Regions from separate parts of the Homo sapiens genome. Here all the other regions are linked to region 1. Evidence: fine-mapped expression QTL. A gene starts in region 1. Each other region holds a variant in brackets. All regions are shown on one strand. Distances are between the middles of the regions. Region 1 holds the start of SP5 (Sp5 transcription factor). Region 2 overlaps MYO3B (myosin IIIB). Region 3 holds the start of GAD1 (glutamate decarboxylase 1).

Evidence for each region. PIP is the estimated chance that this variant, and not a neighbour inherited with it, causes the effect.
Region 2: its variant is fine-mapped to the expression of SP5 in tibial artery (GTEx, PIP above 0.99). The same link has a PIP of 0.9 or more in coronary artery.
Region 3: its variant is fine-mapped to the expression of SP5 in tibial artery (GTEx, PIP above 0.99).

What each region holds. Positions count from the first base shown.
Region 1 is chr2:170,709,968-170,719,778 of GRCh38, reverse strand. SP5 (Sp5 transcription factor) reads right to left here and starts at 4,442. Exons shown (of 2, transcript NM_001003845.3): 1 at 4,216-4,442; 2 at 1,701-3,520. The coding sequence starts at 4,266. The coding sequence ends at 2,375. The region is part of intron 5 of ERICH2-DT (ERICH2 divergent transcript); the gene reads left to right. LINC01124 (long intergenic non-protein coding RNA 1124) reads left to right here and starts at 5,212. Exons shown (of 1, transcript NR_027433.1): 1 at 5,212-7,340. LOC100130256 (a long non-coding RNA gene) reads left to right here and starts at 7,772. Exons shown (of 10, transcript NR_187629.1): 1 at 7,772-7,915. RefSeq lists enhancers at 2,491-3,280, 3,281-4,068, 4,069-4,858 and a silencer at 5,076-5,125.
Region 2 is chr2:170,372,585-170,382,395 of GRCh38, reverse strand. It overlaps MYO3B (myosin IIIB), which reads right to left. Exons shown (of 35, transcript NM_138995.5): 10 at 284-380. Among named protein-coding and RNA genes, the nearest start is that of MYO3B-AS1, 27 kb to the right of the region's middle. The variant G/C (reference allele first, on the strand shown) is at 4,671.
Region 3 is chr2:170,810,340-170,820,150 of GRCh38, reverse strand. It overlaps GAD1 (glutamate decarboxylase 1), which reads right to left and starts at 3,264. Exons shown (of 17, transcript NM_000817.3): 1 at 3,103-3,264; 2 at 1,478-1,622. The coding sequence starts at 1,559. GAD1-AS1 (GAD1 antisense RNA 1) reads left to right here and starts at 1,500. Exons shown (of 4, transcript NR_197761.1): 1 at 1,500-1,765; 2 at 2,236-2,433; 3 at 3,119-3,297; 4 at 3,666-5,528. RefSeq lists enhancers at 827-1,349, 1,350-1,873, 3,113-3,282 and a silencer at 3,370-3,449. The variant G/C (reference allele first, on the strand shown) is at 5,757.

The DNA of each region.
Region 1 (9,811 bases):
TTCCATATATTTAACAACCAAAAAATTATAAGAAAACTTTATCTTCAACACCTCTTCTGTTTGGATACTAAATAAATGATTGGCTCTGTCAATAATAGCTAGTAGACTCATTTTTAAATGGCCATTTTTCTTTCTCTACCAAGGTCATTCTTTCAGATGAAAGAATCATTTCAAATTTTGAGTCCAAAGCCTTTGAAAATTTTCACTCTCTAACAAGGATTCCTCTTTCTCACCACTTTCCAAAAATCCTTTTCTGAATCTATAGTTGATCCCAGGGCATGGTTCAGATGGGAGTTTCTGTAACTTTTTAGAGAAAGGTGAGAGTTTCTATAACTTTTCACATTGCTTTAGACATCAAAATGTGTAGTCTTGATCTAATGACTTAGATCTAATGATTTTGATTAAGATTACATATTTAAGTGTATATTAATATTACTGCCTAGCAACTTTATCACTATTGCTTGCAAACTGCCACACCCTTGAAAATGTAACCCAAACTCCTCTTCCCAGGTGAAGAACCATGAAGACTCACATTCTAATTAGTCATTAAATAGTTCCAATATCTCTTATTCTAAGGTATATTGCCACTATGAATCTAATATTCATTTACTACCTTGTCCCAAGTTACAGAATAAAAATGCCATTTCTTAGGAGTATAAAAGTAATTTTCATCTGAATTATGTTGATATTTGTGTTTTACTTCGTATAAGAATTCAAGAACAACCCTCAAAGCTTTTAAGAACTGATCCTTCAGTTTGACTTCAAACAAAAGGCAAAGTAAAAGCAGTTTGTGAACTGTGAAATCCTATCAATTTGTACACACTTCAACTATCATGAAAAGATTATTCGGCTCTATTAAAATTTGGCATTAATGATGCTAGCTTAACATGTTAATAAAATTTAGAACATTTTCTGTTCTTTGCTAATCTTAAATCAAGATTTAACTGCTGATAAAAGTTTCAGTTACAGGTTTAAAAACTCAAATATTAGAAAATATCAAGGAGTTAGACACTTGATAAAACATTTGTAAACTTCAAAACTTCAACTTTTAGAGAAAGGCGAGGCACCTAGACAAAAAATACCCTATTTCCACATTTCCAAACCATGAGTATTCCTGGCTCTTCCCTGAGAAAATCTTAGACTACTTCAATGATTAAAAACATAATAAAATTCAGATACAAAATGGAACTAAACGTCCTGGCCTAGCCAGAAATTCCTGGGTGGTTACTGTGAAATAAGACTTGTTAAGATTTCCATCGCAAGATTAAAAAGAAAACAAGCAAAACAACGCTGGCTATCGTGACGGGACTGAAATACAGGAGTGGCGTCTGGGAAACTATCTTCTTGGTTCTTTCCCAGGCAAAGACCAACCTGAACAAGGGTCCCGTTTCTCTGTACCTCTCCACAAAGTCTCACCTGTGAACAGATCCTGGCGCCTCTAATACCTCTCTTAACACCAGCATAGTTGTGACCTGTCCCGAGAGTACCAACAAATAGAAAGCCACAGGGAATTCGTCAGGTAAAAACAAACTTGGAAGACAAACAGTCTCGGGTGAATCCTAAGGCCGCATGAGAAACTCAAATTGTGATTGGAAAATCTTGCCCTACCTCTTTACCACAAAACGGAATTGCCTGCCTTTGTCCATTCCTGAACCCAACACATTTGCCCAGATCCTTCCAAACCAAAGAAGCCTCCGACACAGGCAGACTATAGGAACCATCAAATTCCCGGGGAAACCCGACCGCTTAGTACAGCCACCCAGAAGAAGAAAAGATCAAATGAGACCGGCTCAACGGGGTCTTCCTGTAGTGACCCCTGAGTTAAAGTATTTATTTTCACGCTGCAACTGCTGATCACTTTACAGAGACATATCATGCTGTAGCTCTGCATGGAGCTGAAGACAAAAGCAACATTTTTATTAATGTTATAATTATTATAATTATCTTTAACAAAGCTATTAAATAACCTGTACAAAGCCCAAACCGGTCCTAGCGAAAACCCGAGCACTGTTTCAAATCTCCCAAGTTCCTTTCTATTCAGTTCAGCAGCATTTCCTATATACAAGGCCAGACCAGGGTGGTCCCCCGAAACTGTAGGTCTCCCTGACGGTGGGAACGGTTTAGAGTTTGGAACCGCCCTGGCGTACGGCAGAGCTCCCAATTACAATCCAAATGCCCCAGCCCCAACCCTACCTCCCCGCTCCTGGGAACTGGGTCCCTATGTCCGAAGGCAGCGGAAGTTGGAAGCCTGGCTCCATTTTGGGAGGCAGGCAACGGAGAGGGTCCGTCTGCTGAGTCTCCCCTCCGCCAGCTGCCCACAGGTCCCCGGATCTCTCGCAGAGGTGCTGGGAAGGGGGTCCACCTCCGGGAGGGCTCACAGGTCCCGCGCGTCCTCCCGCTTAACCCCGGCCTCAGCGACTTTGAGCTTCTTATTCTGGTGAGTCTTGACGTGCTTCGCGAGGTGGTCGCTGCGCATGAAGCGCTTGCCGCACTCGGGACAGGCAAAGCGCTTCTCGCCCGTGTGAGTCCGCAGGTGCCGCTGCAGCTCGTCCGAGCGCGTGAAGCTCTTCCCGCAGAAGAGCCAGTTGCACACGAAGGGTCGCTCGCCCGTGTGCCAGCGCAGGTGCGCCTTCAGGTGCGACGTCTTCCCGTACACCTTGCCGCAGCCCGGCACGTGGCACACGTGCTGCTTCTTCTTCCCCGGCTCCGCCTCGGGGGCGCCGCCCGCCGCCTGGCAGTTGGGACAGCGGCAGCGGCGGCACCTCCTGGCCGTGGCCGCCAGGGGGGCCTTGGTCTGCAGCAGCGCGGCGATCTGGCTCTGGTACTGCGCAAAGTCCGACGGGCCCAACACCAGGCCTCTTTGTAGGGCGGCGGCGGCCGCAGCAGCAGCGGCCGCAGAGGCGGGGAAGCGGGGCGCGTGGGGGGCCCCGGCACAGGCGCCGGAGAGGCCGCTTCCCGGAACCCCGGAGGCCCCCGGCCCGGCGCCCGCCTGCGGGATGCTCCACCACGGGAGGTCGTCGGGGGCCGGGTTGGGTGACAACTGGCGGCAGGTGGGCGGCGGGGGCGGTGGCGGCGGCGGAGGCAGCAGGTTGGAGTAGCCTGGCGGCAGCGCGGCCTGCGCCGCGTAGGGCACGTAGGCGGGCGCGCAGCTGGCGGGCAGAGCCGCCATGCTCGAGGGCAGCATCTTGACCGGCGAGAACTCGTAGGGGTACGAGGGGTCGGCGGGGGGTGTAAGGGGAAGCTCGTGCGCAGCCCCGAAGGACGGCTGCAGGTGCGTCTTCTGCGGCGTCAGCCCCAAGCTGGGATGCGGGGGCGGCAGTGCGCCTGGCGAGTGCGCCGGCATGTCGGCGGTCCACGGGTGGAAGAGCCTGGAGGGTGAGCCCAGCGCGGGGTCGTAGGGCACCTGCAGGAAGTCCGGGGGCGCCGCCGCGCCCGGCTGGCCGATGCGGCTACAGGTGGCGGCCAGCAATGCCAGGGGCGAGTGCTTGCCCAGGTCCGGGGAGGCGCTGGGGGTGCGGTCCTGCATAGGCGGCGAGGGAGGGCGGAGAAGAGACAAAAGGTTAGCTCCAAGCGCGGACTCCGGGCCAGCCCGCCGCCCCCACGCCCGCTATTATACCGCCGCCCCTCCTCCGTCCCGGCCGTCCCTCCCCCGCCACCGCACCCCACGCACGCACCCACCGGCCGAGGGAAACTTTTGGTGCCTGCGCTACCTGAACGTGGGGCCCGCGAGCGCTTCTTGCTAAACTACTTGGTGCACTGAGACGCCATCCAGCCTTAGAGGAAGCAGGCGCGAAGTGGGAGGGGGAGGCATCCGACGGGCCCCTCCCGGCTCCGTGGTCAGTAAGAGTCGGGAAACACCCACAACCCCGCCGGCCGGCCGCTCTCCCTCCCATCTTTTAAGCTCTCTTGTCCTCACTGCCTTCGCGCTCCTCCCTGGCCCGCCCCAGGCTGAAATCAGCAGGAGGGCCCAGCAGGGTGAGCTCCGGTCCTGTTCTCGGCCAGCCGGGCACCTCCGAACAATCCCGGATCCACGCGTCCCTCCAGCAAAGGCCACACCGGATTAGGTGTGAAGTTGGCGTGGGCACCCCTAGGCCTGGCTCCAGCTGCACCCATCGGCGGGGTTCCCTTTGAGGTTCAAGGTGCACGGAGTACCAGGAGAGATCCGGACACGGCCCTTTCCACCTTTCTCCCGCCCCCTCCGGGCTCGGCCCTGACCTGGAGAAAGGCCTGCAGCGAGTCGTTCCGGAGGACGGCCACCGCGGCCATGGCTACGGCTTGCAGGCCCCTGGCTGCGGAGCGGGACGCCGCCGCCGAGGCATGGACACCCGAAGGCGAGGACGAAGGGCCGCCCAGCCTGCCTCCCTGGCGCCTGCTCTGAGCGCCGGGGCCCTCCCCGCCCTTGCCCCTCGCCGCGCCCCGCTCGCTCGCCCCGCGCGCGGTCTGAGCGCTTCAGGATCACCTCCAAGAATTTGATAAGGACTTTGCTGGGCCGCCAGCCAGTCAGAGGGAAGATTTATGGCTTTGAAGTTTGCCGCTACCCAATCATCAAAGAATAGCGGCTCTTTCAGAAGCGAAAGCAAATCCTTTGAATCCACAAAGCTCCTATGGTGTGTTTGTTGGTCTGGATAAAAGAACTGATTATTAGGGGGGATGGGAAGGGAGGAGATAAAGGCGGGACAATTAATGAAGTAATCACTATGTGGGAAATGTATATACACAAATAATTGGATTTTCCTGATCAAAGGGGGCCTTGCCGCCTGGAGACCCGCGCTTGGGTTGCTCGAGACACTCTTCCCGCCCCCCCCAACATACACACACACACACACACACACACTTGCAATTAAAGATTTGCACCGACGCAGCGCCCAAAGTGACAAAGTGTCTTTGTTATCTCTGGAAAAATCTGCCTTCGGCTTCCAGGCGCCGGACTTTGAGACGGCAAAGAGTGTAACTCTCCCCTGTATTTACTTGCACACCCTGCACCCTCGCCGCACACGCACCCGCCCGCGCACACAGCGGACCCAAGCGAGATCCCCGGTGGGGCGTGGGACCGACAGCGCCCGGCCCGCCGCGTGTCCCCCGCCCGCCGCGGTGGGGCCGAGGGCAGGGCTGTGACCTGGGGCGGGGCCGGGCGGCCGCCCAGCGCGGCGTTGGGTGGCGCGCACGCTCCAGGGCCGCCCGCCTGACGAGCGACCGGGGCTCTCCTGTGACGTTCCTGCTGGCGACCTGGAAGTTTTCCTCAGGCCACAACTTTTGCAGAGTGGACCTGGGAAAAACACCCGCGCCGCGCATACCCTCAAAGCTGAGCTCGGCAGGACACCCAAGGCGACCCGTCATGCCCACCCGAGGGGAAGAAGCTGTGCTGTCCCGCCCCCTTCTCCCCAGGCCACCCAGGAGGCCCGGGCTGGGCTGTGGGGGGCCGAAAGCCCCAGCGCTGCTGGTGATTTCTCGCCCGGAGCCCCGCCAAGCCAGCGCGCCCTCTCGCAAGCCTGGCAGACCAGGAGCTACTGGAAAAAAGGCGCGGTCGAGGAAGCCTGGTTGTTGTGGTCCCACAAACCACAAATCATACGAGAGAGGATCCCGAAGGCGGGAGAAAAGTCAGTACAGACTTGTTCCTGCCACCTTTGGAAAGAAAAAGTTCCTCACCAGGCGCGGGGCGTGCTTTGCTCTGGGCAGGGTCGCGCTTGCAGGGGCTTGGGTGACCCCCATCCCTCCCTGGCGGCTCACCTCCTGCCGAGGAGGGCCACCTGCCTCCTCCTGGCCCAGGGCGCAGGGCGCGTCCTGCCCCGGCACTGCGGACGCGGGGATCGCCTCTCCCGGGCGCGCGGGCGGGGAAGGAGGAAGAGGCGGGCGGGGAACCGCGGGGTGCTCACCGCCCTGGGGCATTAGGGGTGCGGAACCGCGTTGGAGGCCTCGCGGCCCCGGCTCGCGAGAGCGCACTGCGGAGTGGCCGCCGGAGCTCGGCCTACTCCTCTCCCCCACCCACCTCCCGTCGGACACAGTCTCCACTCTCCAGGCCGCCGGCCGTGGGGGAGCCCCTAATCAGTTCGCGCCCGGCCTCTCTGCCCGTCTTCCTCACGGGAACCGCACTGCGACCGGGACGGACGGGGTGACCTATCTCCCGATGCAGCGTCAGAGGTTAGCCTAACTACAACGGACTCGGAATCTGGACTGTATAAGGATGCCCTCCGCACTTCCATCAGGGGTCGGGGATGCGATGCCTCCGGGCCCACCTTCTCCCACGCCCAGGGCGCGCCTGCGGAATGAGAATATCGTACTCAAGACGGGTGGGCTGCTTGCGACCCAAATACAATGGGTCCCTCGCACATCCTGCACTCGCACGCCCCCTTCTCCCCCAACGAGTTGTCCCCTCTAAAACGCGAGCGGCGACCACACAACTTGGCCGACCCGATCTGGCTTCTGAAGATGAGGTCGGCTGCTCTGGGAGCGGAGAAGGGGAGAGAGCTTAGTGGTTTCATCCGAGGCCTGGCCAACCTGCTCCTTCCCACGCTCCCGTCCAGGATTTGAGTCTTGGAGAAGCGTGAGACTCGAGGGAGCTCTTCCCTGGATGCAAGTCGGAGGCCAGGGAGCCCCTTGGCACACACTCGCGCCTGCACATGCTTGCACCCTCGAAGCGATCTGGTTCCTTAGCGCTGGTTTCCTTTCCAGCTTCTTTGAGATCTTCGAAGTCCCCTTTCCCAGGGAGGCGGGCAGGGCCGGGCTAAGCAGGATGGAAGGCAGCCCTTTTTATTGAATCTGATAGCTACTTTCCCAAAAAGGCCAGAAAAGCCATTTCACATCCCCATAGTTATGGGAATTAGCTTTTTCTCCAAGATGCCCCCATTAGCCAGTTAAACCATCAGTGGGCCAACAGGGTCAAAGTTAGTGGCTTGGTGGTTGAAAGCTCGGAGTCCGAACTCTCTGAAGACATTTTTCCCGCCTTGCCACTTTCTAGTTGGTGACCTTGGCAAGCAAGGTACTCAGCCGCTGTGTACCTCAGTTTTGCGGTTTGTAAAATGGGAGTTACAATAGTGCACCCCTTGTAGAGTGGCTATAGGTTTAAGAGTTAATATACGCAAGGTCTTTAGGACGGTGCTGAGCGTACAGAAGGCCCTCTCTTGAGTGGTCGCAGTTGGCTGCTCTCGGCCTCATCTCCGTTTGTGAAAACCCGTCCAGATTCCGGTCCTCCCAGGCCCCAGCTGAAGTTTGGAGAGAGGCTTTGCTGAATAGCTGTTTAGTCTCCCCCAACCCCCTTGGCCCTCGGAGCTCCTGGAAAAAGTTCTTAATGAAGTAATGTTGAGAGCGTCCATTAAAAATGCAATGCTGGGAGATCAAAGTACAATATTTATTTTAGAAATTTGTTGTAATCACCAAGAGATACAGGTATCAAGGCCAAATGTCAGTTCCATTACACAAAGCCCCGCGCCCGGGAAGAGCGTGTGGCTGCTCTGCCATAATGTAAAGAGACATCAAAGACCGAGCGCGCTGCAAAAGTGCGCAGCTGTGGGGGAGAGAGTAAGCCCGGGAGGGCCAGGCGCGCCCCAGACAGCGCGGGGGCTGCGGGGGCGGGGGTCAGTTCAAAGAGGTATCCGTTGGGGCGCGAGTTCACAGGAGGGAAGATTTAATGGGCTTTCTTTTGTTGGTGGGTGTGTTTGCGCACGGTGGACCCAGGAACTCCTATGTGGTCCTCCTGCCTCGGGGCGGAGATGGGGGTGGGGTGGGAGCTGCGAATGTGGAGCAAACTTTAACCGTGGCGGGGGGCGGGGAGGTTGAATACCAGTCTCCTGGCGGCGGCTGGCACAGCGGAGCTGCTCTCCAAGCAGCGGGGTTCCCAGGCTGGGAAGTTTGCATTGCCGTTTCTTTGCGGGCGGGCGGCGAGCGCCGACTGCATGCCACCTGCGAGAGGAAGAGGCCGGTAGGTGAACCCGCAGTGACACTTGCGCAGGGGACGGACCAGCTCTGCGCGCTCTGGGATTAAGTCAGGGGTTGCTACTTCCAGCCCAAGCTTGGTACCTCGCCTCGGGCATTTTCTTGCAGCTAGAAGGGACGCATGCCTCTGGCATAAATCCAACCAGAGAGTCACCCCTCTCAAGCTAGATTTTTTAAAAATCTAGATATTATTTAGATCATTTCAGCAAATTCTTAATGCTTTGGCCTTTCACAGTAAGATGTTGCTTAATCGGCTGGATCTCCCCACTCCTTGCCAAGGAGACTCAATTTTGCAGTTGCCCATATCTGCCTAGTTAAATCGTTGCTATACTAAAGGTTCTGGGAGGGTGGGGACAGAATTTCCCCGGTGCTAATGCGGCACTGAATCGCAGGAGGCTGCCCATGCATTTCTTCAGTCATCTACAACCAAGAATTCTCAGAGCAGTCCCTCGGCAGCCTTTTGAAGCTGTGCTAGAGCAGAAAGCTGCTATTGTTCTCATCTCTCAACAAGGAAAGGTTCAAACTTTGCCTCTTCAATTTGAAAGATTTTTTTTTTATGGTGGTGGGGGGAGGGATTGCAATCTGATACTCAAAGTTAACTTTGAGGATTTGGAGTGGTCTCCCAGTTTAAGCTGCAGATCAAATCACAGATGCCCTAACGCCTGCATCTCAAGTCGGGGGCACTTCATCATTAATACGGTGGAGTAGTCAATCACAAGCAATTACAACGTGGGTAACCTAGCCTGGTGACCGAGCTAGTTTACTTTCCAAGGAAGTGGGACCATTTCCTCAACTGGAATCCTTGAATTAATTTTAAACTTAAACTTCCAAATTGGATCAGTATACAATACTGGTTGTAGAACTAGGAGGAATTTTTAAAAATCTCATCTAATTCTCCCTCATTTGGTGGGAGGAGGAAACAGCATTTGTATGATATGTATCCTGCCTGCACAATGCTGTGAGCTTCAGTAGATGCTCAATAAATGCTCATTGATGTTGGGTGGTAGAGTGGAATTGTGTGTACCAATGTCATCAGCGTATGACTGGTGCCACAGAGCACACAAATGTAGTAGGAAGTCAGAGAGGATTGGTGAGGACTGGGGTGGTCAAAGGAGGCTTTATCAAGGAGCTGGGGTTTGGAGGAGACTTTAAGGACCTACAGAATTTTAACTTTAGTTAATTTTAGTGCAAAGAAAGGAAGAAGGTGAAGGGGAAAGGGACAGTAGAAGAAAGAGAATTCCACTTCAGTGAAAAGTTGAACAACGATGAAGTTTTGGGTCTTTGATCTGTTGGTGTGGACATGGTGGGGCCAGATTAGAGAAGTCAGAACACGGAGTTTGCCCCCATGCTGTATACATTATAGTAGGAACTTCTTCTGAGCAGGTAAATAACGTGAGTTCAATTCCATGTCTGAAAGCTTCTTCCCTAGAAGGATTGGCTTGCAGAGTCTGGAAGGATAGATGCAAATGCAGTTACCTAGGTGTGGGATGGTGAAAGTTTTGATTGGGAACTGGTGGTAGTAGTGAAAGGATGACTCAGCATTTTAAAGGGGAAAAAGAGCAAAATTTGGTGACAGGTTGGAATAAGACATTAAATAAAGGGGACACTCAAAAGGACTTCTCTTTTGAGCAAATGGTGCTGGGGCAACTGCATATCTACATGTAAAACAATGAAATTGGACCCTTTCCTTACAACACACACACAAATTAACTCCAATCATAGATTTAAATGTAAGAGTTAAACTCTGAAGCACTTAGAAGAAAACAAAGGAGGCTGGGTGTGGTGGCTCACACCTGTAATCCCAGCACTTTGGGAGGCCGAATCACAAGGTCAGGAGTTCGAGACCAGCCTGGCCAACATGGTGAAACTCTGTCTCTACTAA
Region 2 (9,811 bases), 340 kb after region 1:
AAATATTTTCAGCTGATATAATCCATCATTAAGGCTACAATATAAAGAGCTTTATTGCAAAAATCCAAATCCTTTTCTCTTCATCATTCTAGGGGCTATCTAAATAAACACAGCACAGGATCATAGTCACAGCAACTGAATGCTCCCTGAACTTCATCCCATAGCTACACAAACAATTAAATTTTCAAATGACCTTAGGAGGACATGGTCTACAACAGAAAGTTCAGACCATTCACATGAAACAAATGTCTTCAATGAGAATTGTCTACTAAATATTTAGTACCTCATCCAGAACCTCTAGGTTGACCAAATCATCCTCAAGGCAGTATTTTTCAGCATCTTCCACATGATAAGGTCTTCTGGTATGCATCCTCTCATGCCTAGAAATTTATCAAGAGAGTTTAAGCATTAAGACAGCAAATAATGTAGCAGAAAGCGGGCAGCAAGCATGGCTCATTCACAATCTTATCACGTGATATGTTCAGAGACTTCAGAGACAGGGACAGGAAGTCCAGTCCAGGTCCCCAGGCTTTTCCTGCCACTGTAGAACTATTGGGATAAAGTGATCTCCATAGTTCAAGTCTACTTCCTGCCAGAGTGAGGAGTGTTACCAAATGGGCCCACCTAATACACATACTTGCTTTTCTTAAATGCCAAAGACAGCACTTCCAGAATAAACACCTCTGACTTCTGCTCAGTGTCAGGCACATAGTTCTCACTGGGGTATAGCCATAAGTGCCTTACTTCCCTTGAGGTCCCCTTGCTTTATCTACCAGCACCACCCCCAACTTTTGTGATAGTTTTTAACCTACGTAACACTTTCAGAGATTAATATAGTAAATACCAAATAATTGATCACTGTTTATGTTTTTTCTTATTCATGTGAAATCCCTTTGTGACCCTTGTCCCATCCCACTCCTCTCTCCTGAGGTGACCACTATTTGATGGGTTTCCTTCCAGTCTATTTTTAAATATTGGTCATATGCCTATAGATACCCATGAGCAATATACAGGTTCTGTATGTTTAGTTATAAAAATGATATCATACTTAGGTTTTATACTGTAAGCTTACTTTTTTCATTAAACATTATGATTTTTAAACTCTATTTATCTATCTATCTACCTATCTACCTTACCCACTTACCTACCTACCTAGTTCAGTCACTTTAATCACTGGGTAGTATTATACTTTATGAATATGTACCTATTTATTTACTCAGTCCGATGGGGGGGGTTGTTGTTTTTAAAATTTTATTTATTTATTTAGTAATTTTTAGAGATGGGGTCTTGCTCTGTCACCAGGCTGAAATGCAGTGGCATAGTCATAGCTCACTGCAGCCTCAAACTCTTGGGCTCAAGCAACCCTCCCCACTCAGCCTCTCAACTAGCTGGTACTAGAAGTATGCACTATTGTGCCTGGCTAATTTTTTAAAATTATTTTTTGTAGAGATGGAGTTTTGCTTTGTTGTCCAGGCTAATCTCAAACTTCTGGCTTCAAGTGATCCTGCCACCTTGGCCTCTCAAAGTGCTGGGATTACAGGCATATGCCACTGCACCCGGCCTACTCAGTCCTATGTTGATCAACATTTAGGCTGATTCCAATTTTTTTGCTACTAGTAATAATGCAACACTTAAAACTTTATACACATCTTTTTGTGTATATATGTGAGTTTTTCTCCTGGAGGGCACTGTTCACTAAGGATTTAAAAATCTTGTTTGATAATCAGTAATAATCCCCTCTGGTATACTAAAATATAGCTCTTTAAGGTTTAAAATTAATTCAAGGTCAAAGTAGGCCTTCCCGTAATTCCTTTCATAAACTCATCACTCCTCAATGCGGTTTAGGAGGAAAGCATTGGCTAGAAGAGCTCTGGACCCTAGTTTCAGAGTTGCGAGCAATGTGGTATGAGACACTCAGCAAATCCCTTAACAGCCAGTATATCGGTTTTCTTCATCTATAAATAGAATTACTCATAACTGATCTGTCTATCTCCCAGGTAGCTGTGAAAGCACATATAGTCATGGATATAAAAATGCAATAAAGTTGAAAACATGTACTAATTATTATTCTTACATCCTTGTTAACATTTGGAATCAACAATTTGCATAACTACACACATTACTCTGAATATCATTGACTAAACAAAATCATACATAAACTGTCCTACATACTGTAAATTCACTAGCCCAGAAGCATAACTTCTTGATTCTTCTCTGTCACTTTTGTGCCCATCAACATCACAGCTTATGAGGATATCACCCACCAATACAATTCTATCTAGCTAGATCCTAGAAGCTGGTGTTGACTGAAAGTTTTATGGTAAGTACCAGCTAGAAGTCATGGAATCTTGATGTACACCCCACCCTTTGGTATGCATTTCACAAAAGTAGGTAAAAAGGAAGAAGCAAACTTATCAGCTCTGCATATTGAGTCTTGAGTTTATAATGCAATATTAATGGCCAAATAAAATGGATTTCTCTCTTTCTAGCCTATTAAGTTAAATCTTACCTTTCAATCTCCATCACTGATAAATTTGAAAAGAGATATTTGAAGCATGCTATTAGTCATCTCCAGTCCTAGAACCAGTTTTGCTGCTAATTCATATAAAGGTCCAAAGTAGAATGAAGCTTAATTTTTATTTAATCAAATCAAATTTATAACCTAAGCAGTTTAAAATTATTAAACAGAATTATTTATCTGTGACTTTACATATTGGTGATGGCAAAGAAAAATCAAATTGGTTTGTAATACAGATTTTTACTAAAACTCAGAGCTGCTGCCTGCCTCTAGCTAGCCATTTTGTTAAATAAAACAGCAGGAGGATACATATTTCCGATCAAAATCCCCTTCACATAAAACCTAAGAATAATTTTGCTTGAAGTTAATCAAAAAACAAAATACTGGCTGGGTACAGTGGTTCACGCCTGTAATCCCAGCACTTTGGGCGGCCAAGGCGGGTGGATCACAAGGTCAAGAGATTAAGACCATCCTGGCCAACATGGTGAAATCCCGTCTCTACCAAAAATACAAAAATTAGCTAGGCGTGGTGGTGCACGCCTGTAGCCCCAGCTACTCAGGAGGCTGAGGCAGGAGAATTGCTTGAACCCGGGAGGCAGAGGTTGCAGTGAGCCGAGATCAAGCCACTGCATGCCAACCTGGCAACAGAGCAAGATTCCGTCTCAAAAAAAAAAAAAAAAAAATTGTACCACATTTTCATGAAATAATTAAATTACCATATTAAATTCAGCTAGTTTGTCTCCTTCCTACATTTATATCTTATAATTGCATATTCTGCACATCATTTGACAAAGAAAATCAATAATTAAAAAATTACCTCAGATCTGGTTCTGGTCAAGATGGAGTAAGCCCTCTCCACTCCTCACTGAAGACAACTAAATACCCTTGTCAGAATGCATGGAGCAGCTATCTTAAGACTCTGAGAAGTAAATTGTAACAGGCAGACTGGGGAAGGAAGTCAGAACTCAAAATACCACTGAACCAATGGTGAGTTTTCCAGGCTTTTTTTTCCTTCAGTAACTCCTGACCTGGATTTAATGGCAGCCTGAGCTGCATACAGAAATGCCAAGCTTCACATTGGATGACATTTTTATAGCCAACTAAAAATGGAAGCATGGACCAAACCTTACTTGCAATCTCACAAATAGATGCAGTCTAGTAGAAAGTTTTAATTTTCAGTGTGAATATACACAATGCAATATCACTAGGATCAACATTGGTATCTTCTGAGCCTGAAGGAGATTGTGTGCTATGCCAATCTGTCTCACAGATATAACTTCCAAGAATCATGCAGATGTTGTCTGCAAATCTGAGCTTGATTCTTGTAAAAAATCTTCCCCAATAATATTGTATTAACAAAAAATAACTTTTTAAAAATTTTAACTGCTATTAGTAGCAATGTGTGGCCTCTTTCCATGCTTACAGGTGATCAAATTCTTTAGAAATATTTGCTCCTAAAAGTGAAGTAGGCAATCTAGAAGTGGATGTAGATGCAAGACTTCTCTACTCTGATAAAGACCACTTCGTTTTCTCAACCAGAAAAAATATATATATGTGTAGCACTATTTCTGCCTTCCACAACTAGTGTTCTTTGGAAACTGCTGCCCGCTTAACTTTCCTCCTCTGGCTATGGGGTTTGGAGGGTCTATCGTAGAGAAAAAGCATTATTTATTTCAATTTTTATCTCCTTTAAAAACATTTTCCTAGACTTTGCATAAGCTTATAAAAAGCGTTACGTTGTTTTATATTTCTCTATTTTTAGTTGAAATTAATAAAAATAAACTTGGTTTATTTTTTTAATTTTATTGAGTTAAGTGATTTGTGTCATTAGTAACTATAGATCTTAATTTCCTTTAAATTCACATGCTCCATCTAGTGCCCTACTTGAGAATAGGACCTATTATCAATTTTTGCTGAAGAATTCCTCGTTTAATGTGAAAATTACAGATCTCCAACTAAAAGCTACTTGGATCGAGTATTCCAAAGCTCAGAGGAATGGAGACATAGATAAATGAATGGATAAACAGCAAAAAACATTCTACTAAATCAAAAGTATGTGGTAAGGCACTGTAGTTTTAATGGCTCAGAAGACGTTTTCAAATTCCAGTAAAGTTTATATTGCTTTTCTTAGATTTCCTACTTGTTTTTATGA[G/C]TTTGTAAGTATGTTGGCTGCCAAGGCTGGCTTCTCAGACAAACAGAGTTTGCGAGTTGGAGCTTAGAGGGAAAGTCTTGGCTTGGACTGGTTCCTGGAGTTTGCTTTTGGTGTGGCAGTGGAGCGGGAGACTGTGGAGAGCAGGACGGGCCTTAGGTTTCAGGGATCAGGTAAAGGGGAAACTGGTGCCTGAATCCATGGATCAAGTAGGGTGGGAATGAGGGCAAGTCTGTACCATCAAGTCCAAGGAAATGAGTGCAGCGTAAGAATAGAATCTGAAGAACGGGAAAGACAGAGCCAGAGGTAGAGGCTGGGAGTTCCCCTAAGACAACAGTGGGCATAGATGAGGTAGAGGATGGGGGTCTTTGTTCAAATCTTTGGCCCAGCCAATGAGTGGGAAAGGAGCTTTAGAGGACACCAAACTGGTTTAAACACTAGAAGAATTATTCTCATGAAATAAACTCCTAAAGTGTTGCAGCTTTCACTCTAGTTTAATCTCTGTATCTGCATTATGGTTAAAACCATTTCTGTGTCATTGTTCTCTAATATCTCATCACTGGGCCTGCTAGCTTCTTTGTTTGAGCTGCTAGTCCTATGAACTATATTGACAAACATATTTTGCCCAAAAGTGACTCATTAATCAATTAGCCTCTTTCTGTCTGCCAGTTATGCCTATGGAAGTGGAGGCTTCCATGTAGGTAGGTACAAACAGAGCTGCAAGAACTTCACGTAGGTGAGACAGGATACGCTCTTCCTTTCACTCCCCAACTATGATGAAGAACAAGTAATAGAAAAAGGTGCTCTAAATCATAACTCAAACATGAGAAGGAAACAAATTCTTCTAGCTTATCAATTCAGCCTAATAATAATAACAACAAGCAATATACTCCTAAGAAGTTAATCTCTGCACTGAGAAATGCCTGCTGGCTTCTTAGAGAGTCACCCTGTGTCAGCACCATTGTGAAGGTCACCTCTGCCTCTGCTCCTCCACACCCAGGATAAGAACCCTCTCCTCCGTCCAAGAGTGGAACTGCAAAAAGTGGAGAATGACTATCACTGTTACCAGATTCCAGATGGAAAAGGAAGTAAAATTTGTTGCGGATAGAGGCAAAAAAAAAAATAGAGAGAGGGAATAAGGAAAAAGGTGCAGGCTCAAAGATGTCAGTCCTCAAGAATCTAGGACAAAAGCCTCCATGGCCATAGAGAGAACTCAGGGATCACTCCCTTATCACTACATTCAATGGATTCCATACAAGAAAGAAAACATTACTCAAAACTGAGAATAGAGTACTGTTACTACACCAAGGTCAGTGATGTTGAATATTTCTTCTAAATCTTAATTTCCATTCAATATACCCTTTGATAACAGAGCCAATGAAAGAGGGACTTTTATTTTACCGTAACTATATAATAATGGACCTCAAACGAGAAAAACAATAGCAGACCTTTGAGGAATGACATTATTCTACTGAGAGTCAAATATGGACAGAGATAGCAGCTGGATACCTTTAACTACATGAGCTGTATCTTGACCCTGAACTTAAGGCTATGTCTTTCAAACAATACAATGCATAAATTTTAAAATAGGAGAATTGTTTGGGTGGAAATTATTATAGTATCTGCCCATTTTTCATCTAAGCACCGTTTTGGCCAGAATCCCAATAAATCAGCATCTTATCATTAATCATATTAAACAGTATTTGATATACCCAACTTCTCTAAGCGGCAAGAATCAGTAACACCAGCATAAAATTAATATTAACTAACTTACTCATTTGTAGATAGACAGATATAGGTATAGATAGATAGCAGATACTAATTATAGCAAGGTATAGATTTATTTCTTCTGTTAGGAAGATAAAAGGATATTTAACCTCCTGTGTGTTAAGCTTCTTCAGCACTTTATGAAGTAATCTTTCTGGAGTTACTTATTTACATAAGAACCCAATAACCCATTAGTGTATATAATATGGGGTGCTCTGTGTGTGTGTGTGTGTGTGTGTGCATGCATGCACATATTTGAAGGTAGAAGAGGGAGAGAGTGAGCAAGGATTACTGGGGAAAACTAGCAGTTAAATAGTGAGAAATCTGTTTTTAAAGGTCATTGCTGCAGGTTGAAAAGAAATCAAAAGCTGAAGTCATTGTTTTAATCAGCCTCAGGCAAATTGCAAGGGCGACATGACAACCCATTAAACAGAGCAGAAAAAAAAAAAACCCAGCAACTTAATTCTTCTACCAAGTAATACTTAGAACAGACCCTTGGCATTTAGGGTTTAACATCTGTGGTTTCAGCTAGTACCAAGCCACCTGCAGGGGCACGGCATGCTGGATCTTGTAATTTTACTGAGGTTCACGGTTGAGTTCATGGTCGTGGCAGAGACAATCGAGTCCTTTCCCTGCCTCCACTCACATTCCAGAGAGTGGTTTCACTCTTCTCCCAATAACCCTTGTAAAATGATACAAAGCATGTTTTCAATCTACTTCTCTGAACTTTAACAGTGAGATGACATACCAGATGATACTAATGAATTCAGGGATTTGCAAAACTGGTTTGGGGAAGAAGTCGTCTTTTTGCAGATCAAGGAAATAGGTGCTGATATAAAGGAAATGACCAAATAGTTTAAAAACACCTCCAACAGATGAAGTAACAATGTACTTTCAGCCCATTGTTCACATAGTTTTAGGGCTTCTTTAGCCCTTTAGGGCTTACTCCTTTAAAAGAGTAAGACTTGGATTAATAACTGCTCTATTGTACCTGAATCAAATACATGCATTGGCACAATTATAATTTACTGGAAAAACTTAAATTCCAATGATGTCATACATACACTATAATCAGCATCAGGTAATGGTATCTATCAAATCTCAAATAGTACAATATCACTTCTCCACAGGTGCCTCTGCTGTCCTGTATCTATATCTGTAGTGTGTGTGTGTGTGTGTGTGTGTGTGTGTGTGTGTGTGTGTATGTATGCATATATATATATAGAGAGAGTGAAATAGGGATGAATCACATCCTGGCTTTCCAAAAAGCACTCAGAAAAGCCTGAATGGTTAGACCCAGGAGAGGTGAGACAGGGGACTTACAAATTCAAGCCCTCCAAGCACAGTACAGCTTCTGCTCTATGTGAACAAGCCCTCCATGATTCTTAGCCTTGTTTTTGAATACTCTTGAATATGTGCCATAACTGAGATGGATCTGATCTAAGAGTTCCTCAACCTGTCAACACTTAAAAAACATTTCTTTCTATTCCACCGAAGTTGCCCACAAGCTCAGCTATCCTTAGTTCCTAATTATCTATCAAAAGTTCCTAGGATCTCAGTTCTACAATCCCTTTTCTCATCATCCCCTCACTGAATCTGCTCTTCATCTTTGTTGTAATAGCCAGTCCCAGGACTAGATCAGCCTCAAAGTCAATAAGCCAGTCTGGTGTCACTTTCTTCCCTACCCACAAAGATCCCAAGGCCACTCTTCTACTAACCTCGATTCCCTTGCTTCCTTGCCCACTCATCATGTCCACTGAAGTCAGTCTCTAGCCTGAAGAAGACCATAATGTCTGCTTTCTCTACTCCTAACTCCTTGCTGCTAAGAGTTAATTGAGATGACAGATGAGAAAGGCGGCAGTGGTGATGGTGCATTTTCTGAGAGTTTCTAGTGCCAAGTGTCCTGAATGCTCTACATGCATTATCTTAGACACTGATTAACTTCACTACAATAGGATGCTATTCAGTTGCATTCTACCTGGGTTTTCTATGCTATTAAGCAATCATGATGTCGATCTTTAACTGACCCTTTATCATATTCCTCATAGTGAATATCTCAAAGATTTAACGATTCCCTGGAGTCCACAATCCACTCCCAACTCTGAAACCTTGCTAAGTTTTTTTTTTTTTTTTAAAGGCCATTCAACATGAATTTCCTCACAATGCCTCCTCTCCTAAGTTTTCTGAGTACTTTTATCTAACCTTTCTGTGTCTTTCCCAACTTAGAGTTTCTCTCTTTCTAAAGTCAACCTCCCTTTTAGGCCCCTGACCCACTCCCTCTTGCTTCCTCCATTGCTTCCTCTCTCTTCTGTCTTCGTTGTCTCCCTCTCTATATATATCCTTCCCCTTTACCTGTCCAAGTGTTCCCCCATCCTTTAAGAACTTGCATTCTTCCCTGCATCCTGCTCAAACTACCAACTTCTCTCTCCCCTGGGAAAAGTACTAAAGTGGACTGAACGTTCCTTACCTTTGCAGGAATGGTAAGAAAGTTTTCCCTGTAGATTATAGGTTTCATTACTCTGTATCAGCTCTCAAATCCAAAAAGAGTTGCTACAGCTGGAGGGCCCAGGACTGCCTAGACCATTGAAGAACTCTCTTTTGGGCAGAAAGCTGGAAGCTTTGTGTAATATCTGGAAGTACTTGGCATTGCATTTGATAGACTATGAAGACGTGTCTTGCAATTTCTACATGATTGCATTGTGAACCAGGCCAGGGAGGCAGCCCAGTTTGGGTAGGCCCCAACACACTTCTCTGTTTCCCTAATCTCCCTCAATCAATCCATCACTAAGTCCTGACAATATCATTATTTTAATATCTTCTGCCATTTGTAATTACTATGATCTGCTCACTAGTTCCCTGGCTGCAGCCTTACCCTGCTTCATTCTCCATACTGCAATCAGAACAACTTTCTGGAACTCTTCAATGGCTCCCTAGCACCTAAGAAACAAATTCAAGCTCCTTAGGCCCATGGTGACGTGGCTCCTGTCTACCTTGTCTCTCCCTCCCACCTACCCCATGCCAAGCTCCAGCCATGTCAACTAATTGTTCACCAGATTCCCCAAGCTCTCTCTAGCCCTTGTGCCTTGCCCTTTGCTCATTGCTCTTTCTTTCCCCTCTACCCCGAATAACCCCCTTTCCTTGACTATCTTTGATTTGTTCTTCAGGGCAGTTCAAGGATCATCTACCCAGCAGCTCCAGGGCATCTTCCCCTACCATCCCAACCCCAGACTGACTTAGGTGTCTTTACCAGGTGCTCTGAGAGGTATCCCAGGCATTCCTTTATCTAGGTACTTTTCATTTTGAACTGTTCTCACCTGATTCTTGTCTCTATCACACACCAGACTATTAGCTCTTTATCAGGAACTGCATCTGATTTG
Region 3 (9,811 bases), 100 kb before region 1:
GGGAAATGTGGAAAGCGTCAGAAAAGAAATCCATCAAGGCGAAAGCACCACACAAAGGCGCGCAGGCCTCGCGTTCCTCCCGCCCTGCCCTGGCCAGCTCCAACGCCGGTGCCTGGTTCATATGCTACCAGGGCTGGCGACTCTCCCGAGGCCCTCTTTGTTGTGTGGGTAATTGTATCCCTCCTGGGTGGCGGGAAGAGGGAGCTGCAAAGGAAATTGGAATGAGACCTGAGGACTTAACACGAGACCTCCTGCCCGGGAGCCAATGCCAGCGTCTAAAGGGGCTTTCCGGTAATAATCCCCACTTCATTGATGAGGATACTTATTTTCTCAAATATAAAGTGCCATAAAAGCGCATCAATAAGCACTCCCTGTAACCACACTATCCTTCTTAAGCCCTTTCTGTATACAAATTCTGGAAATTCATACAATTAATTACATCTCAGAAATAAATAAATGGGGGAGTGGGAACACTTACAGTCTGAAGCTGATAAGTTTTTTTAGGGGGGTGGGGTCAGGAGACACTTCTTCACTCCAACAAGGAAAAAGAAAAACAATTTTCTCATCTCAAGCCTTTACAGAGGTAGGAAATAAAATTAAAGATAGATTCTGGAAATGGGTTGAGGAGCCTGTCGCACTTAAGACAGGGAAGCATAAATCCTCCCCCCTCTTTTATCTGGTGTCTCTTTTCTTTCTCTCTTTTCGGGACATGTCACCTCCTGACAGATCTCTTGCCTGGGATAAGGAGAGAGGTGCTCTCTCCTCTCTATGATAAAGCTTCTTGCCCCCTCCCAGTTCCCCATCTCTTGCCACTCAGGATGCCGCCCGCTCCCCTATTTATTTATTTATTTATTTATTTCTCTGAGATGTAATTAATTGTATGAAATGTCAAGGCTCAGTCTCAGTTTTATGCACCTTTCCCGCCCCTGACTTCTCCCTAACTCGTCAATAGCTTGATGCAAATTTGGAGCAATTAGGGACCTTGAGTTTTCTAAAAGCTGCAATTAACGTCGAAATTTCCGCTGATTATAGACTTTGAACACAGCCCAGGGGGAAAGGAGGAGGTCAGATCTTGGCTCAACGAAAGCCGGGGACTGAAAACTCTTATTCCTGCTGGGGCTCCTAGCTCTTCATTCCGCCCCCTGCGCTGACCCCTGTCGTCCCACGGAGCAAAGAAACCACACACAACAGAATAAAAACAACACCCTGGCTGCGCGCCCCTCCTCCTCCGCGAAGCCCTCAACGATCGCCGCTGCTCGGACCTTGCGTGGTCCTCGCTTTCCGGTGCCCTGGGAGTCACCTAGCGTCCCTGACAGCCGAATGACCTCTGGCAGGGACGGGGTCAGAGCCCCATTTATTTCCCAGCCTCCATTATCTCCGCGCTCCCCCTTCCCTTTCCGCCAGCTCAGCCTCCCGACGTCCCAGCGCCCCCATCTTCCCTGCAGTTCATTTGATAGAAAATTGGGGCGGGACCTACTTGTGGGGCGCAGGTTAGTGGTATTGGGGTCCGCTCCCGCGTTCGAGGAGGTTGCGGACGAAGATGGGGTCGAAGACGCCATCAGCTCGGTCGTCCCGGGGCCTCTACTGTCCAGAGTCCTCGACTGGTCCGGCGCAGAAACAGGCTGCAAAGAGAAGCGAGAGCTGTGCGGGGAGGACTTCCGGGGTCCTGCACACCGGAGGGACTGAGCAGCCGGGGGCACGGAGGCTCCCCTTGAAGATCCGGCTCTGGAGAGACAAGAGGGAGGAAAGGCAGCGAGCCTGCCTGGTAGGGGTGCGCAGGGGTGGGGGCAGCGGAGGAGACGTGCGCGCTAGCTCCGGTACTGGGGCGCAGGGAGCGTAGCCCTGGGCCGCTCTCGAGTCTGGCGGTGCATCGGCGCGACCTGGAGTGAAGCGCCGAGACGAGGCGGGGTCGGGGTCGGGGTGGGGGTCCAAGGCCAGTACAAGACGCAAGGGTGTGGGGGACTAGGCTAGGAGCACAGGGGAGCGCTCAGTGAGCGATTTTCCAGCCGAGCCGCTACAAGCCCCATTGGGCACTCAGCAGCCGGCGTGTGGGCCAGCGGGGGGAGGGCGCACGGGGCGGGCATGTCTGGTTCGGTGTCTGGTTCCCGTTGTTGTGTCTGGCTAATTCCCTGGAAAGAAAGAGGCTAACTGCTCCGGGGACTAGGGACTTTGGTGAGACAAGGTGAGAGGGGGAAAAAGGCCCATATCTTTACGTTCTCCCTCGGACTTGGCCAGAGAAGAACCACAGTCACCTTGCACTCCAGACAGCCAGAAAGCAGCGAGTCGGAATGTTGCTTGCCTCCCTCTTATCCCAGCCGGTTTTTAGCCATCGCTAAGCCTAGGGCGAGGTTTCGGTCCGGTTTCAGCGTTTCTCCTCTACCTAGCCCCCTGAGGACCCCAGATTTCTCGCGGTACAGATCCAGAGAGGGTGGGGTAAGTAAGCATGGGGAACGTCACCGGGGAAACGAACTTGCGCGCAGCGCGCAGGAGGCGGCGGACAAAGATCTTGCGCGGCGCCCCTGCTCGACTCTCGGCGCTGGCGCGATGGCGCCCGAAGGCCCCGGGACAGAGAGATTGCGGGCTAATCTGGGTAGATCGAGGACCCCACAGAGAAGGGCCCACCGGCCATCGCCTCCACACCCTCCCTCCGACCTCACTCCTAGCCCCGCGCGCGCAGTCGCACAGCAACTCGGGCAGCGGGTCGACTACGGCCCCTGGAAAAGTAACAGGTTACCGTTCCTAGTAGCGCCTTCGGCTGCTGCTGCCCAGGCGCCCTTTGGAGGGACAGGCGCTCGCAGCATGGAAGCTCAAGGGAAAATCGCTCTTGCCCCACTTCAACTAGAGCCTCAGCCTCCGTGCTTCCCCGGGGCGTGAATCCGGAGGGCAGGGATAAGAAGAGTGACGAGGGAGGCGGGGGGGGGGGGGTCCCTGCGCAGCGCACCCGTGGAGAGCAGGGACTAGGGCGGGCAGGAAGCACTCATTTCGGGAGGTTGGGTGGCCGGCGCTGGGATGGGGTTGGTTGAGAAGCCGCGGGAGGAGAGGACCTGGCTGAAAAGCCACGGTTGGGCGCTGGGAAGTCCAGGTGGTCGCTAGCTTACCCACCTCGGCTCTGCGACAGCGAGCCGGGCACTCCCGCCTTTCCTCTGCACAGCGCCCAGCGATCCGCTCGGCTCGGCCCTGACAGGCGTAATCTGCCCGGCGTCACCTCCAGCTGCTTCCTCGTTCTCGCTAGTTCCCTCTCGCACGCGAGCGCCAGGAGAAGAGAGAGATTCGGAGAGGCGGCTGCACGGCTCCGGGGTAGGCGGGGGCAGAGTGGGGAGGCGGGGACCGGATCGGCGGGGAAATCACGAGGCCGTTGCTCGCGGGGGCAGCTAGTCGGCGGAGCGGCGGGGCTCCTCTGCAGGTGCCTGACCGCCTCTGGAGCTTTATAGGGCGATTATAAATCCAGCTCACGGTTTTGCGCCCGGAAGGAAAAAAAAAAGGTCTTATGAGTAATCCAGAACGTACTCAACACGCTTTTTTTTTTTCCTTTGGAAATAGGCAGGCTGTCGGGTGAGAGGAGGGAAAAGATAATTCCTACGAAGAATTCTGCCTTTCTGAGCGTTTCTTCTTCCCTCCCCTCCTTTCCCCTCTCCCATTTCCCCTCCCCCTCCCATATATTGTAGGAGACGAGCGGCGGTTTTGCCTCAGTGCTTTTCCCCGGGGTTCCCCCAGATCTGTGACCCTGCGACGCTTCCTTGAGCGAAAGCGCGCTTTGGGTCGTGTCCTCGTTGGCTCTCTACGGAGCTGGGATTGTTGTAACCGCAAAGGAGGCAGAAATGAGGGGAGACCTCTTAGACCATGGAGGAATTACAGTTTCCTCATCCAGCCCTGGGCCCCATCAAAGTACCACACCTGGCCACAGCTACCCAGTGCCACCGGCAGAGAAAAGGACCCCGCGTCCCTTTTGCTATGCGCTCGCTCCTCGCTTTGGCCCCCTTGGTGATGGGAAAAGAAGGCCTCCTGATTAATCACGTTTGAAGGTTGATGACACGCACGAGCGCCGCTGCACGCGCATGGGGCACCCGAGCACAGAGGTGCCCGGAAGGGGCGGACCAGCCCCCCTTGCCCTGGCCCGCTCCCCCTTCGATTTCACGCGCTTTAAGGATTCTCCCTTTGCAATATTTAGGCGTAGTTAAAAGAACCGCTGCGTTGGGAGAAGCCCCTCGCCGTAAAAATGCGTTGAAAGAGAAATTCCCACCAGAGGGCGCCAAGAGCCCAGAGACGGAGAGGCCCTGCGCTCCCGGGTCTCTCCGCCAGCGCCCGAGCGGAGCCCACACCTGGAGCTGCTGGCCAGACGGTTACGCGCCGGCTTGCCTCTTCATGCCTTCCCTCACCGCCCTGTCACTAGTTTAAGTTCTCCCCTTTCTTCTCCCCCAGTTTTTTTCTTTAGGGCAAAAATGTTGATGTCTGTGCGTGTCTGGGTGACACCGTGTAGGCAGTGATTCCTTTACTGGTATTTACCGTGGTCCTCCCCCTCTCCCCAGGTGGTGCAGCACGCAGGGGTTATTTATGCGCACGTCTGGGGCCTCACTGGTTCAGCGGAGGCCCGTCCGTTTTCTTTGAATGCCTTATCGCCTTTCACCACAACACAATGGAAACACACACAAAAATATTATAAATTACCGAGAGTTCCATAAGGGAGATCGAAGGGTCCGCCCTGGGCAGACATGGCCTGATCAGCAAGAGGGATCTCGCTGTGGGGTTTGAAATAATCGCGTTGCCTTTGGTACTAAAGAAACTACTGTTTTGTCGCCTTGTCTCCACCTGACGATGAAATCCCCGGCACTTTTTAAGGACACAAAAAACATCCTAAACGGCGGGGCGCGCGGTGACTGCAGCCCCGGGCACTGAGGCTTGGGGCTGGACAGGCTGGGGGTGTCTGCTCCACGTAGGAAACGTCCCCCCAAACCACTCAACCGGCAGCTGCTCTGCGCTGCTTGAAGTGGGCGGCATACAACCAGGTGAAGCTCGGAATTCCATCCACCGGCCCTCCTAGAGCCTTCCCTAAACGAGACGCTCGCACCAATCAGGGAGCCAGGTGCCAGTGCTAAATCATTCAAGACGCACGGGGCAGGAGACAGGAAGGAGGAGGCAACACATCTCCCGGTGCCCCTCGTTCTTCATTGTCCAGCATAGACGCCCGCTCGCCTCAACCTTTTCCCAAAACCCGTGATTCCCTGGAAAGGAAGATTCGTTTACTTCACCTGTGGCACGAGATTGAGACATTTCCAACCACTTCCTCCTTTGACCCCAGAGTTCAAAACACCCCTAACGTTTTAGCCAATGAAATAATCTCGTTGGAGAAGGAATCTCCTGCAAGGCTAGGTAACGCAAGCTGAAGCTGAGTCCGTCCAGCTTCGAGGACATCCCTCTCTTTCTCCTTTATGGTGAGTAGGGGAGGAATGAAGACTTTTGTCCGTCCTTGTTTAGAATGTTTAATTGAATATTAGCAGTAATTGATTAAACGAATATTTATTAATCCCCTACTATGTGCCAAGCACTTATTTTTTGGAGCTTGCATTGTCCCTGCGGTTTATATTATCCTGCACGCCGGGAGTGGACATTCCGGTGAGGCAGGGAGAGGAGCGCACTTAGAAACTTCATAAATTTGATTTAATTTTCAATGATCTCCTCCAACTCGAACTCTTGGGCACAGCAGGAATGGTAATGAATTGAAGGCCTGGAATTCCACTCCATCCAGATTACTGAGTTTT[G/C]AGGTAGGGCATAGATCTTTCAGCACGAAGGACAGCGCCCGTCCTTCTGGTCCCCATGCCTCTGTTTCGTTTGCTTCCGCCAATAGCTATGGGCCAACCCACCAGACTCGCCCCAGCCCTCCTCCCTCCTGACAGTAACTGCTGTTTGTTTTGCCTAGTTGGGGGGTGAGGTATTTCGCCCACTGCTCTTCTCTCCGGTAGGAATTTGAACTAAGAGTGGCCGTGGTTGTCATTCGGCTCTAAACAACATTTGAAACCTATATTTTTGTTTATGTCTTTCACTCTTCCTTTAATCTTTTATCATTCCTGGGGGAGGATTCTTGGGATAATGGGGGTGGAAAAAAGATATCCTCTCCGGGGACTCGAACCGGTGATGAGGGGTGGCCCGGAAGGGAGTGGTGTCCGCCCAGCTGTTTCGATTGTATTTGAAGCGCTTTGAAGAAATGGGAACGCGGCGCTCAAAGGCAGAAGAAGGAGGGGGCGATATGCGACCCCTCCAGTCTCTCTCCGGCATTAGGGATTTGCGAGCTTGCAGCCCCGGCTACTCCACCCTGTCTGCCGAGGATAACGTTTCCTTAGGTCAACCACCGCTGGGACTTGGGAACACGACCCTCCGCCCACAATGCCCTTTATTCCTTTCCCCGTCGTGGGTGGGTGGGGGATTGTTTAAAGATATTCCAACCGGATTTGGGGCCAAGCCTTTTCTGCAAAGGGAAAAACGGGTGAGTAGGAGGAGCGTGAGGCGTTGAAGGAGCGCCCAAACGGGCTGCGGGGAGATCTTCACGCCTAAAACGTGGTCAGTCAAGGTGAGTAGACAGGACACGTCAATTTTTTTTGACGCAATTAGAATTTTTAGCCTCCAGGAAACGTAATTTAGAGCCATGGTATTGGTTCGTTTCAGCTGGCTCCTTAAAATCTATTTTAAGTGTCTAATTTATGACCAGAAAGGAAAAAAAAAATGGCAGTGCTCACCGGTTAAACGTCTGTCTCCCGAGACGAGAACTGGGGGAAGCGTTACTTAACCTTTCATTCTGCTTAAGTCGGAGCTAAGGTCCATTTGCTGTTTTTGTACTTTAAAGATAGTTCCCTGAATTATTCTGGACTTTTTTGAAGGATCATAGCTAAATCCACACCCCCATCCCAACAGACCACACAACACTCACAGCTGGGAGGCAGGAAAATGTTAAAAGGGTGAGAGGGGGTGGGAGGGGTGACAGCAGAATGCTGGAAGGCTGGAGAGGACTCTAGGAATTACAGCCACTTTTTCTAAAGAAGAGAGCTGGATTCTTCGGATAACTGGCAAATGGTCCTTCCCCCTTGATAGTCAGAAGATGAAAATATTCTAATACAAATAAATGAATCAAGGAGGACAGGGTGATTTGTGTTTGGGCAAATCTCCTTGTGCAAATCTTGAAACGTCCAATTCTTGCTATTCTAAACTCGAAGACAGAATGACCACCAGGTGGCAATAGATTACAATTTCTGAGAAGAAACAACAGGCCTCCCAAGGGAGCAGTTCTTCAAGGAAGAATGCAGGCTCATACTCATCCCTGCCAAATTTCACAAAGCAGGGCCTTTTCAAATGGTCAGAAGTGCTCTGGAAGTGACCTGAAACACCTAGGGTAGTGCGTCTCTTTGGTGAAAGACTAGGGGGTGCATGGCATCTGTTTTTTTCCCACCTAGCTGTGTCTCAAATGTAGTGAACCTGTGAATATTAGGCAAGAAACTGATTCACTGCAAAACTGGAAACCAAGGAAATACAGTTCTGGATTGTAATTCTGATGGGGAGCTTTAAAGGTATATCTGTGTCTTCTGATCTCAACAAAAACCAAGGCGAAATCAGTCCTTCCCCAAAAGGGTGGGATGCAAAAAGGAGGATTTCCCACCTGAGATGCTTTAGTGAAATACAGAATTCATGGGAGACTGAGGAGAGTAATATTTTATTCATTTCTTTTAGTGTAAAAGCTCTTGGACTACTTAAAATAACAGATATTTAGTCCCCATTTTCAAACATAGGTATCTGGGACTGTTGTTTGTGAAAAGGTTCTGGAAAGTTCTGACTTAGTTGTGGCGAATCTAATAACTTAAACTTCTATTCCAGGCCAGGTTTCTTCCCCTAATCCTGACCAGTTACTCAGGGGAGGAAACTGGAACTTTAACAGAAGGGGTGCATGATTGATTGCCGTTCCCATTAGGCCCCACCTTCAACATTGGGGGTCACATTTCAGCACGAGATTAGAGAGGACAAACATCCAAACTATATCAAATATTGTGACAATAGCTGACGAATACACTCTCCTATACCAAGAAGGGCAACGGGGACTGTGTGCGGTGGTTCACGCCTGTAATCCCTGCACTTTAGGAGGCCGAGGCAGGCAGATCTCTTGAGGCCAGGAGTTCGAGACTAGCCTGGGCAACATGGAGAAACCCAATCTCTATTAAACATACAAAAATTAGCCAGTTATGGTGCTGCACGACCTGGAATCCCAGCTACTTGGGAGTCTGAGGCACGAGAATCATGTGAAGTCGGGAGGCAGAGGTTGCAGGGAGCCAAGATCGTGCCACTGCACTCCAGCCTGAGCAACAGAGTGAGACTCTTGCCTCAAAAAAAAAAAAAAAAAAAAAAAAAGCCAACGCAGGCGCAAGGTGGAACTCAGGGTAAAGTCTGACATAGGCTGCCCAGAATTGCTTACTGTGGGCCCAGTCTGGCCAACAGTGGTGGTGCTGGGGTCTGTGGGGGACATTAGAGAACTCTCTCTATATATCTCGGTCTCTCTTGCGGTCTCTCTCTCTTTAGCAACACGACTAATAATTATCCTCATAGAGGAAGGAAATAAGTCTCAGGGAAATTGTGTGGTGTGTTTATTGTATGAATTCTCAGTTAATTATCACCTGAGGTCTTCTGTTTTCTTGATGAGGAAACTTAAGTCCAGAGAGGCTACAGGACTTCCCAGACCACATGCTTAGTGCGCAGGGGGCTGGAAATGCTTTCTTCTTCTCTCAGTCCCAGCGCCTTATGCTTGTTCAGTGAAGCCTTCTGGCTCTGTCACATAATAATCATTTGACCTTGGAAAAATCACAGAATCTCTCCAGACCCCCATAATGGGAGGGTTTGGGTACAAGATAAGACCAGATGAGGTTTCATTCATCTGAAACAATTTATTATTACAGGTATTTTGTGATTCTTCTCACTGGCAACTCTTCTCATGTTGTAAATACCATGGACTCAAGAACCTCTTGAGGCCCTCAAGGCAGCTTTTACTGGGAGAAAAGCAAAAATGTTGAAGTCAGTCTGACTTGAGTTTACATCTAGATTCTACTTATCGGCTATTGTTTGACTGCTCCAAGTTTACTTCTAAGTAAAATGGGGGTTAATATCAGCCTTGTGGGCTATCTTATTTGATGCTCATAGAACCCATTTTAGGCCGGGCGTGGTGGCTCACGCCTGTAATTCCCAGCACTTTGGGAGGCTGAGGCAGGCAAATCACCTGAGGTCAGGAGTTCGAGATCAGCCTGGCCAACGTGGTGAAACCCCCGTCTCTACTAAAAATAAAAAAATTAGCCAGGCATTGTTGCGCACGCCTGTGATCCCAGCTACTCAGGAGGCTGAGGCAGAATTGCTTGAACCTGGGAGGCAGAGGTTGCAGTGAGCTGAGATTGCCCACTGCACTCCAGCCTGGGCAACAGAGCAAGACTCAGTCTCAAAAAAAAGAGAACCCATTTTAGCAAGCTCAAGTGTGCCTAGTTAATGGTGTTCAATACATGTTTAATAGCTGCTTCTGCTCCTTCCCCTTAGTTCAACAGTGATTTTGAACAAATTAAATTTGTTCTCCTTGGATGTATAAGCTAAGCATAATATTTGTATTATTTTGCCAATTTCTTTTAGTAGAGCTACTGATCATTCCCGGACATAGGACTCAAAGCCCTCCTCTTTAGTGCCTTAGAGGTTTTTATTAGTCCACAAAGATAGTTTGATTTGTAGAGAAAGTTTTCTGATGGAGTATTCAGACTCTCTTAGGAAAGGGAGAGAGGGAGCCAGTTTTGTGATGAGGTGA